Homo sapiens: one gene and its partners. The protein of the gene in region 1 interacts with the protein of each later gene in a pairwise test. Each region holds a gene or a part of one and is shown on either strand. Other genes may lie near its edges.

What was found.
Region 2: the proteins of BATF2 (region 1) and HLF come close enough for resonance energy transfer, tested with the Homo sapiens proteins (one large-scale study listed by IntAct).
Region 3: the proteins of BATF2 (region 1) and CEBPG come close enough for resonance energy transfer, tested with the Homo sapiens proteins (one large-scale study listed by BioGRID and IntAct).

The regions. Positions count from the first base shown.
Region 1 is NC_000011.10:64,990,706-64,994,119, reverse strand, and holds part of BATF2 (basic leucine zipper transcriptional factor ATF-like 2), read left to right. Parts: intron 1-3,414.
Region 2 is NC_000017.11:55,263,416-55,267,166, forward strand, and holds the start of HLF (hepatic leukemia factor), read left to right. Parts: upstream 1-1,544; 5' UTR 1,545-2,069; coding exon 2,070-2,184; intron 2,185-2,428; exon of another isoform or gene 2,429-2,471; intron 2,472-2,806; exon of another isoform or gene 2,807-2,900; intron 2,901-3,360; exon of another isoform or gene 3,361-3,440; intron 3,441-3,751.
Region 3 is NC_000019.10:33,376,558-33,379,947, forward strand, and holds part of CEBPG (CCAAT/enhancer-binding protein gamma), read left to right. Parts: intron 1-2,586; 5' UTR 2,587-2,682; coding exon 2,683-3,135; 3' UTR 3,136-3,390. UniProt on the Homo sapiens protein: Transcription factor that binds to the promoter and the enhancer regions of target genes. Binds to the enhancer element PRE-I (positive regulatory element-I) of the IL-4 gene. Binds to the promoter and the enhancer of the immunoglobulin heavy chain.

The DNA of each region.
Region 1 (3,414 bases):
ACTGGTTAAAATGCAGATTCCAGGCTGGGCACTGTGGCTCACACCTGTAATCCTAGCACTTTGGGAGGCTGAGGCTGGAGGATTGTTTGAGCCCAGGAGTTCAAGACCAGCCTGGGCAATATAGTGAGACTCTGTCTCTACAAAAATTAAAAAATAGTTAGCTGGGCGTGATGGTGCACACCTGTAGTCCCAGCTACTCAGGAAACTGAGGCAGGAGGATCGCTTGAGCCCAGAAGTTCAAGGCTGCAGTGAGCCATGATTGTACCACTGCATCCAACCTGGGCAACAGATTGAGACCCTGTCTATAGAAAAAAAAAAGTGGATTATTCTTCCTCTGCCAGGTCCCACCTCATGAGGCCAGGTGGGCCCAGGGACCTGCACGGTGATTTGTGATTAATCACCTGGGGGTCAGAATTCAGGAGGTGACCAAGACCATACTGTGAGAACTCTGGTTCAGGGTTAAAATGGGCAGGGTTTCCAGTCCCAGTTGCAAGTTGCTTCCTTTACTGAGCTTCATGCTCATCTGAAAATACCATAAACAGTGGCTTAAACAATAGACATTTATTTCTCACAGTTTTGGAGGCTGGGAAGTCCAAGATCAAGGTGCCAGCCAATTCAGTTCCAGATGAGGGTGCTCTTCCTGACTTGTAAGTGGCTGCCTTCTCGCTGTGTGCTCATGGCCTCTCAGTGCATGTGAGAGGACAGAGTGATCTCTTTCCCTTCCTCTCCTTTTTGGGATTTTTGTTGTTGTTGTCATTTTTGAGACAGAGTCTCACTCTGTTGCCCAGACTGGAGTGCAGTGGCGCCACTTGGCTCACTACAACCTCTACCTCCTGGGTTCAAGTGATCCTCCTGCCTCAGCCTCCTGAGTAGCTAGGATTACAGGCATGCGCCACTACGCCCACCTAATTTTTGTATTTTTAGCAGAGACGGGGTTTCACCATGTTGGCCAGGCTGGTCTCAAACTCCTGGCTTTAAGTGATCTGCCCGCCTCAGCCTCCCAAAGTGCTGGGATTACAGGCGTGAACCACTGCACCTGGCCCCCTCCTTTTGTTTTAATTTTTTATTCATTTATTATTTATTTATTCTTTCTTTTTTATTTCTTCATATTCTTTATTTTTTAATAGTGATGGGGGTCTTGCTATGTTGCCCAGGCTTGTCTTGAACTCCTGGGCTCAAGCAATCCTCCCACCTCCACGTCCCAAAGTGCTGGGATTACAGGCGTGAGCCACCATGCCTGGCCTCTTCCTTTTTTTTTTTTGAGAGGGTCTTACTCTGTTGTCCAGGCTAGAGTGCAGTCCACGATCCTGGCTCACTGCAACCTCAGCTTCCCAGGCTCAAGCGATCCTCTCCACCTCAGTCTCCCGAGTAGCTGAGACTACAGGCATGCACCATCACACTTGGCTAACTTTTGTATTTTTTGTAGAGACAGAGTTTCTCCATGTAGCCCAGGCTGGTCTTGAACTCCTGGACTCAATTGATCCACCTACCTCGGCCTCCCAAAGTGCTGGGATTACAGGCTTGAGCCACCGCTCCCAGCCTCCTTCCCTCTTCTTATAAGGCCACCAATCCTATCAGATTAGAACCCGATCCTCTATCCTAGGACCTCATTTAATCTAAATTACCTTCTAAGAGCCTTATCTCTAAATGCAATCACATCGGGGGTTATGGCTTCAACACATAAATTTTGGAGGGAACACAATAGAGTCCATAGCACATAGGTAGTGGCATTGAGTGGTCTAAAGAGGAGATGAGCCAGGCGCGGTGGCTCACGCCTATAATCCCAGCACTTTGGGAGGCTGAGGTGGGTGGATTACTTGTTGGCCAGGAGTTCGAGACCAGCCTGGCCAACGTGGTAAAACCCCATCTCTACTAAAAATACAAAAATTAGCCAAGCATTGTAGCTAATTAGGCAGCCCCAGTAGCTGGGATTACAGGGATGTGGTAGCTAATTAGCCAATCCCAGTAGCTGAGGCAGGAGAATTGCTTGAACCTGGGAGGTGGAGGTTGCAGTGAGCTGAGGTCGTGCCACTGCACTTCAGCCTGGGAGACAGAGAGAGACTCTGTCTCAAAAACAACAACAACAACAACAAAAAAAGGCGATGAAGCCTGAGCTTAAGGACAAATGGGCGTTTTCCCAGAGGATGAAGGTAAGAAAACGCATTGCGGACAAATGACACAGTGCTGGCACAGGCGTGGGGAGCAGCACCCTGTAGACCAGGTGAGAGTGAGGACTGGTACTCAGAATGGTGCCTAGGAGACCCACGCATCCGTTTATTCCTTCCTTCTGGAAATGCTTATTGAGCGTCTCCCGTGTGCCAGGCACATTTCTAAGCACTGGATATAGAGCTGTAGACACAGTAGACAAACGCCCACCCCAGCCCCACCCACAGGGCTCATATTCTCCTGGGGAAGCCAGACCCACAAACAAAAAGTCCCTAGAGTGGTCAGGATGTCAGATGGTGTTAAATCCTGTTGGGAAAACTAAAGCAGAGAAGAGGGAAGGGATGAAATTGAAATTGTTACTCCTTGAGCCTCCTGAAGGTGGCAAACGAATGAATAAATGAATGAGTGAGTGACTCCGTTCCTGGAGGTGAGTTGAAGCCTTTGGAGAATTTAGGTGAAGGGTGGCCTAATGATACATTTTAGAAATGTCCATCATTCCGGCCAGGCACATTGGCTCACGCCTGCAATCCCAGCACTTTGGGAGGCCAAGGCTGGCGGATCACGAGGTCAGGAGTTCGAGACCAGCCTGACCAACATGGTGAAACCCCATCTCTAGTAAAAATACAAAAATTAGCTGGGCATGGTTGTGCATACCTGTAGTCCCAGCTACTCGGGAGGCTGAGGCAGGAGAATCGTTTGAACCTGGGAGGCAGAGGTTGCAGTGAGCCGAGATTATGCCATTGCACTCCAGCCTGGGCGACAGAGCAAAACTCTGTCTCAAAAAAAAAAAAAAAAAAAAATTCATCATTCCACATGTAGAAACCAGCGTGGCAATGGGGCTGGTGGCTTTCAGGCTGAGTCCAGGGCCGGGCGCGGTGGCTCACGCCTGTAATCCCAGAACTTTGGGAGGCCGAGGCAGGCAGATCACGAGGTCAGGAGATCGAGACCATCCTGGCTAACATGGTGAAACCCCGTCTCTACTAAAAATACAAAATATTAGCCAGGCGTGGTGGCGGGCGCCTGTGGTCCCAGCTACTCAGGAGGCTGAGGCAGGAGAATGGTGTGAACCTGGGAGCTTGAGCTTGCAGTGAGCCGAGATCGAGCCACTGCACTCCAGCCTGGGCGACAGAGCCAGACTCCATCTCAAAAAAAAGAACTTTGAGTCCAGGGCCAAAACCACATTTTTATGCAAAACACCTTTGCAACTTCTTCTTTCAAAGTGTCCAGAAAAGGGGGTGGGGGACTGAA
Region 2 (3,751 bases), on another chromosome or scaffold:
CTAAACGATGAGTTCTTGAAGGTTAAAATTATGTTTTATTCATCTTTTTTCACTAGCCCCCGCATAGTCGCTGGCATACATACCGTGGTGCTCAATAAATGCATGTGGCATTAACTAAAAGTTTGCTGTTTCTGGAATTCGTCTGAAACCTGAAACACTGCAACAACATCTCACTTAGAATGTTGCCTTACCCTTTTGCCATAATTTTAGAGTGAGGAAGTAGAGGTCACTAGATTACGTGTCCTTTTATGAAGAACCTACAGCTCAGGGCAGAAAGGCACTTGCCGGAATCACCCTGCCAGGGAACTCTGAACCCCGCTGCGCCGCCGCTCCTGATCTCTGGGGTTTCAGGCGCCTCCTCTCTTACAACCCTCTCCTGGGGAAGTAAACCCCATCAAGACACCACCACATCCTTCCCCAGCGACTCAGCCTGGGGTCACAAAGGCCTTTACGTCCCACTGAAAAACGGTTTTCTTTCATTTGTGCCCATTCGTTCTTGCAGCCCCTTCCCCAGATCGAAGACTAGGGTCTTAGTAAGGAGAGGTAAGGAGGGAGGGGAAGAACCTGCCTGGCCCCCCGCGGAGCTCTGCAGGGGGCGTCGCGGCTGCACGCCAGCGCCCGCACCACCCCAGGCGGGAAGGGAGTTATCACACAGGGGGTCGCACGCAGATCTCGGGGACCGTGGGTGCCACGAGGTCAAACTGGCAGAGGGAGACGCTGCAGCTGCTGTAACAGCAAGGAAAGCCGAAGCCCCCTTAGGGGATACTTTACAAAATTATTTTAATCACCGTGCAAACCTAATAACTTGACCCAAGCGCAATCACCTGTATTCACCCAGAGTAAATATTCCTAAAATCCCGTTCAGTGTGTCTGTGTCTCTCCCGCCTCTTTCCGTTTCAGGCAAATGTCTACCCCCCCTCTCCCCCCACCGTTAACACCTCTCTGCAGCGTGGGAAACAGTGCCCAGCAGCTCAGTCCTCCGCTTCCCGCTCTGCTTTTTGCATCCCATTCGGACTTATAGGAAGTAGTTATTTTTTGGTGGTGGTGGAAACTGGGCAAGAAAGAAGACGCTAAGCTTGGCCGGGGCCAGGAGAAATATTGAGAAGGGTCGTTACCTTCCATCCGATCTAAACCAATCATCTCAAACTTGGCTACTCTTTGGAACCACCTGGGGAGCTTTAAAAATTATGGACGCCCTGATAGCACCGCAGAGGTTCTGATCTAATTGATCTGGGATGCGGCCTGGGTATCGCGATTTTTTTAAAACTCCTCAGGTTATTCCCAGCTTGAAAACTATGGATATAAATTTCTCATTCCTCTTCCCACCCAGACCAAAAAAAAAAAAAAAAATCTAAGCCTAAGTTGATGGCCCAGGGAATCTGGCACCTGCTCCCCTGCAACCAGCCAGTGCTGCAAGGTCCCCGAAAATCGGCGCGAGCGGCGACGCTAAACACGCGGCGGCGGGGCGAGCGGGCCAGGCGGGCGGTGCCGCGCGTGGCCCCGCCCCCGCACGCCTATGGGCGCGAGGTGCGGGCCCTGACGTCACTCTTGTCAGGGCCGCGGCACATGGGCGGCCGGATGCGCTGAGCCCGGCGCTGCGGGGCCGCGGAGCGCTGGGGAGCAGCGGCCGCCGGCGCGGGGAGGGGGGTGGGGTGGGACGGCGCACCGCCTCCGGTGCTGGCACTAGGGGCTGGGGTCGGCGCGGTGTCTTCTGCCCTTCTGCAGCCGTCGACATTTTTTTTTCTTTCTTTTTTTCAATTTTGAACATTTTGCAAAACGAGGGGTTCGAGGCAGGTGAGAGCATCCTGCACGTCGCCGGGGAGCCCGCGGGCACTTGGCGCGCTCTCCTGGGACCGTCTGCACTGGAAACCCGAAAGTTTTTTTTTAATATATATTTTTATGCAGATGTATTTATAAAGATATAAGTAATTTTTTTCTTCCCTTTTCTCCACCGCCTTGAGAGCGAGTACTTTTGGCAAAGGACGGAGGAAAAGCTCAGCAACATTTTAGGGGGCGGTTGTTTCTTTCTTATTTCTTTTTTTAAGGGGAAAAAATTTGAGTGCATCGCGATGGAGAAAATGTCCCGACCGCTCCCCCTGAATCCCACCTTTATCCCGCCTCCCTACGGCGTGCTCAGGTCCCTGCTGGAGAACCCGCTGAAGCTCCCCCTTCACCACGAAGACGGTGAGCGCTGCCGCGGCCCCGCTCCGGGAAGGGACGACGCTCCGGGGGTCCCCCTCCGCGGCCGGGCACGCCCGCTGGAGCATCCCCCAACCCCGCTCCCGCCCTGTCCCGCGGCGCCCCGGCCCCGCGCTGATGAAATTGAGGAGCTCACCCAGCACCCTTCCTCCCCTTCCTCCTCCTCCATGAAAGGGGAGGGACCCCTCCTGAGCTACATTTAAAAGAGCTTCGGGCACCCGGCCTCCCTGGGTCCCGCTCCTGCGGCGCGGGTGGGAGGTGTAACTTGACAGGTCAGGATCGTTCCCTAGAACGAGGCACACCCGCACGCAGAGCGAGCCCGCCTGCGGAGGGCAGAGCCTCCCGGGCTGGGGAGGAGAAACCCTGGGGCCTGGTTCTGTGCGGGGCAGGGGGCGGGGGTCGGCTTGAGGGAGGGGGTTTCACTGCGTAGCCTGGGTTTTGGGGTTGTGTTACAGCTTCTGTTACTGGTTAGTATTTGGAACTCACGAGGTGTGAGAGAAGACTCGTTTTCTTCTGGTGAAGGGTAGCTGAGAAAGCGGGGTGGGGGCTGGGGCCGGTGGGGGGAGTGGTCTCTCGGCGGGAAGCCGTGCACGCCTCCAGCGTTGACACTTTCCCGGTGCACTTTTTCTGGTGGGAGGGGAGAGCGGAGCAGGCTCACGTGTAACCGCGCAGGAGCCTCCTCTGGCTTGAGCCCTTTCTTGGTAAGTCCCAAACCTTCCCAAGACAACCTTGGCCTTAGCAGTAGAGGAGGGGTACGTGTGATGAGGCCCCAAACCCGGCTAAGTGATGCCACGGATTTGGGTTGATGCGATTTCATGCCTTCGGTATCACAGTAGCAAATGCGAACCGTGCGGCTCACAGTGTAAAGTTCTGAAAGGTTATTTGGCTACAAATAGCTTGGGAGTACTTGCACCTTCTTTTCTAGGAGAGGACAACCTGTTGCATTGCAAGAGTTTGCAATCTGCAGATGATAGCCAGGGACCCCTCCCTAACTATCCTTTAAGGAAGAGCATTTGGGAGGAAGGGGCTGCCTGCAGGCTTTTGCATCTGTGGGTGTTTTAAGTCAGATTTTCAGATGAGATGGTAGAGGGTTAGAATGGATGGCAGTGGAGGCTGTGTTTCTCTGAAGATGAAACTCAGAAGCAAATTCCTTAATCCCAGATTCCACCCACGACTGAATACTAGAATTGGCAAGATCCGGAATGCTTGTTAAAGACCTAATGGGCGAGCAGTACTTCCAGGTAGCAAATAGCTGCATACTTCCAACATAAATGTATAGAATAACTCACCTTTTCCAATAGCTCTGCTTTTGAAAGGTTTTGTAAATGCATACTCTTTGTAAATTGGATCATACTCAAATGTTTGGAGAAGAGAAGGAAGAAAACACTTTGTATTTTTTTAAACTCCTTTTGTAAAAATCAGTGTGCCCCAGTGGCTTTAGAAGCAAACACATGTGAGCTCAGAAAGTTCTCATTCTCTGCCAACATGAGGCATTGGTCAAGTTCCCTCAAGTCTCAGAGCCTCCGAGTCTTTGTTGTAAATGGAGGTAATT
Region 3 (3,390 bases), on another chromosome or scaffold:
CATTTCTAAAGAGTTCCTGGATGATGATGATGCTGGTCCAGGGACCACACTTTGAGAACCACTGCTCTTCAGCTTTCCTGCTGTTTCCTCCTTGAGTGATTCACATGGAAGGAAGCCAGGCGCCGCCCTGCATCCTGTAGCCTGAACTTTGGAATAGTGTTTGTCCACAGAGGAGCCAGACTTGAATTTAGGACTGAGTGTCCAGCTTTCAAATAAACACTTTTTGCCTGTTGTAGGTGTTCAGTAAATGTGTGTGGAGGAACAAAGCGTAAATGAGAGTGGCCTTTTCAGTGTAAAATCACTTAGCTCTTTGATCCCCTTTTACTTGGTTAATCTTCACTTTAAGAGCTATTTATATGGTTAAAGAACTTACTAAACAAAACATTCTTGGAGTTATTTTGATTATCTCCAAGTTTCTCTTTCTTACATTTTCACCAGTTTGTAGGTTCAGTGAATACTCTTTTCAGGCCAAAGGGCTTACCTTTAAAACCTCACCTACCACACACGTTCAGCCTAGTACCTTGCAAGATGAGTCAGGCAGAGGTGAAAAAGCCCTTCCCTGTTCCTGTATCTTTGGATACGGAAACAGGCGTGAACGTTGCTGAACGTGGACCCTGTAGTGAGTAAGAGCTGTTTGTTAGTGACTGAAGGTCGTGGTGTGTTGTCTGTAGGAAAGTGTCTTACTATTCCACATCCCTCATTTGCATGTGGGGAACAGACAGCCATGGAAGAAAAGAGATTTGCCCAAACTAAAATAGGGGGAGCCACAGCCAAGACAAGAACTGGCCTGGTCACTGGTCTCTACCGCTTTGGATCATTGCTATCTCTGAGCATGGACAAGTTGACTGTAGAGAGCTTTAAAGGCTAAAAATATAATTGGTATATTAAAAAAAAAGTAGAGAAATAAGGTGAACATGATTATGATTGTTAAGACAGTCTCAGGGGAGGTGTTAAACAAGTTCTTAAAAATTGAGTAAAGCACCTCTCACTTGACACCAAATGGATAATAATAATGTTAGGTGGCACTAAATGTGGCTCAGATTAATACTAAACAGCCACTTTTCTACTGGAAGAAAAATGAGGCAACCTAATGATGACCAAGGGAAATTGTGAACTGTCCATTACTGAAGATAGGCTTGGAGTGGATCGCCCTCATGGTTTGGAGGGATGCTTTTTGTCTTGCCTTAGTGTTGGCGTGAGAACAGATGACCTACTAGCTCAGAGTCGGCTGTGTGGCTTTGAAAACAATGGAAAGTAATGACACATGGACTTTTCAAAGCAAAGATGTTTTTTAAAAAGAGACCAATAAACAGTGTACAGAATTGCCTGGCTGAAGGTTTGGGTGTAGCTACTGGTGTTTGCTAACTGAGCTTTCCCTCATTGTGGGATCACTGCATAAATCTGACTCCAGATTTTTTCCACTGATGTGATTTTAGCAGTTTTGTGAAAAGAGAACAGGATAGTTTTATGTTCCTAACACTGCTTTCTAAATTTCTAAGAGTGCCCTGATTCCTTGGTGGACACCGTTCACTGAACTTAGTTTGTCTTGAAGTGGCCTCATGTTGATAGGATAGTCACACTTTTACACTTCTTGGGGCAGCTGTAGGGACTTAATTGGATTCAGAGTAATCCACATGTGACTGCTTTTCGAAACCGTGCCTTCATTTCTGCAGGCAGCAGCACAGGGATGCTTCAGAGCTGGTGCGTCCTCCGAGCTCACACGAGCTCATTTGGTAGCACGAAGTGGCCACAGGCACGGCAGCTGCTCAGCTCCTTTGTCCAGCCTGGGTCCCAGGACCCGCACTTCCTTGGATGCATCATGAGGGCTTCTGTTTCTTTCCTTGTGGTTTCAGGTTGAGTGTGTTTTGAGTTTTACTAATTATGTCAAGAAGAAAAAACACACTTTTTACAAGCTTGGTGGGATGGGGAGCAAATTGAGTGTCAGAGCTCCTAAATTCAAGAAACTGACTCAGTAAATTTGGTTAAACTGTGGAATTATCATTTGAGGTCATTAAAAAAATAAAGCAAAAAACTACCTTTTCAAAATATCCGATGAAGAGAGCTCTGGGAGAGAACTCAAGTCCTCGATGACTCCCTCTCTGCATATTAGAACATGGAACCCGCAGGGGTGATAGCATGAGAGCGCTGGAGACAGGGTGCGCAACCCCAGCCTTCTGTTTTGACTTGAACCAACAATGGAAACTTTTCCCCCCTTTCATTGCAGGTGTCTCTCCTACTACAGTCAGCTGCAGCTCCTCCCTGGGAGATTGTCAAGTGCTGTTAGTTCACATGCGCCACCTAATTAGTGGAAGTCTTTTGTTTTCCTCCCATTTTTGATAACAATCGCAGAGGGGCAGTGCCCTCAGGGATCCAGGTGGGCTGAGTTTCGCCTGATGGTGCTTCTGTGCTTACTTACCTTTCTAAGTGAAATGATTTAGACTTCAGAAACATTGGAACAGTTGGCAGTTGCTGTAGACTTTTCTCAGCAGAATCAATTAATGTTGGCCTGATGTTAGGTACGTACAAGTTTGATCTCATTTGATCCTGTCATTTCAAATATTTTAATGCAATTTATTTTTTAACTAGGTACATGTGAAGATTTTTTGGCAGCTTAGCGTGGAAACCATTGATCACCCTGCTCTCATTTCTACCTGTTCTGTGTTGGCAAGGGAGAGTGCCCAAATGAGCAAGATATCGCAGCAAAACAGCACTCCAGGGGTGAACGGAATTAGTGTTATCCATACCCAGGCACATGCCAGCGGCTTACAGCAGGTTCCTCAGCTGGTGCCTGCTGGCCCTGGGGGAGGAGGCAAAGCTGTGGCTCCCAGCAAGCAGAGCAAAAAGAGTTCGCCCATGGATCGAAACAGTGACGAGTATCGGCAACGCCGAGAGAGGAACAACATGGCTGTGAAAAAGAGCCGGTTGAAAAGCAAGCAGAAAGCACAAGACACACTGCAGAGAGTCAATCAGCTCAAAGAAGAGAATGAACGGTTGGAAGCAAAAATCAAATTGCTGACCAAGGAATTAAGTGTACTCAAAGATTTGTTTCTTGAGCATGCACACAACCTTGCAGACAACGTACAGTCCATTAGCACTGAAAATACGACAGCAGATGGCGACAATGCAGGACAGTAGACCTCACCCTTTCCAGACTTTAGAGCTTGTGGCTTGAATGTTAAAGGTGTGACCACCGACACCACTCATGTCAATGGCTGAAAGTTGTCCATTTCCATGACTCAAAGACCCATTGGAGGCTATTTTCTGGGATCAGCACTGAAGAGTTGATTAGCTAAAAATGTTAGCCTTGTAATTCGAATATCTGGTTTTAAATGATAGAGGTTTTTGTGGGAATCAAAATCCCCCAAATGTTAAGGTATATGGTAAAAAAAG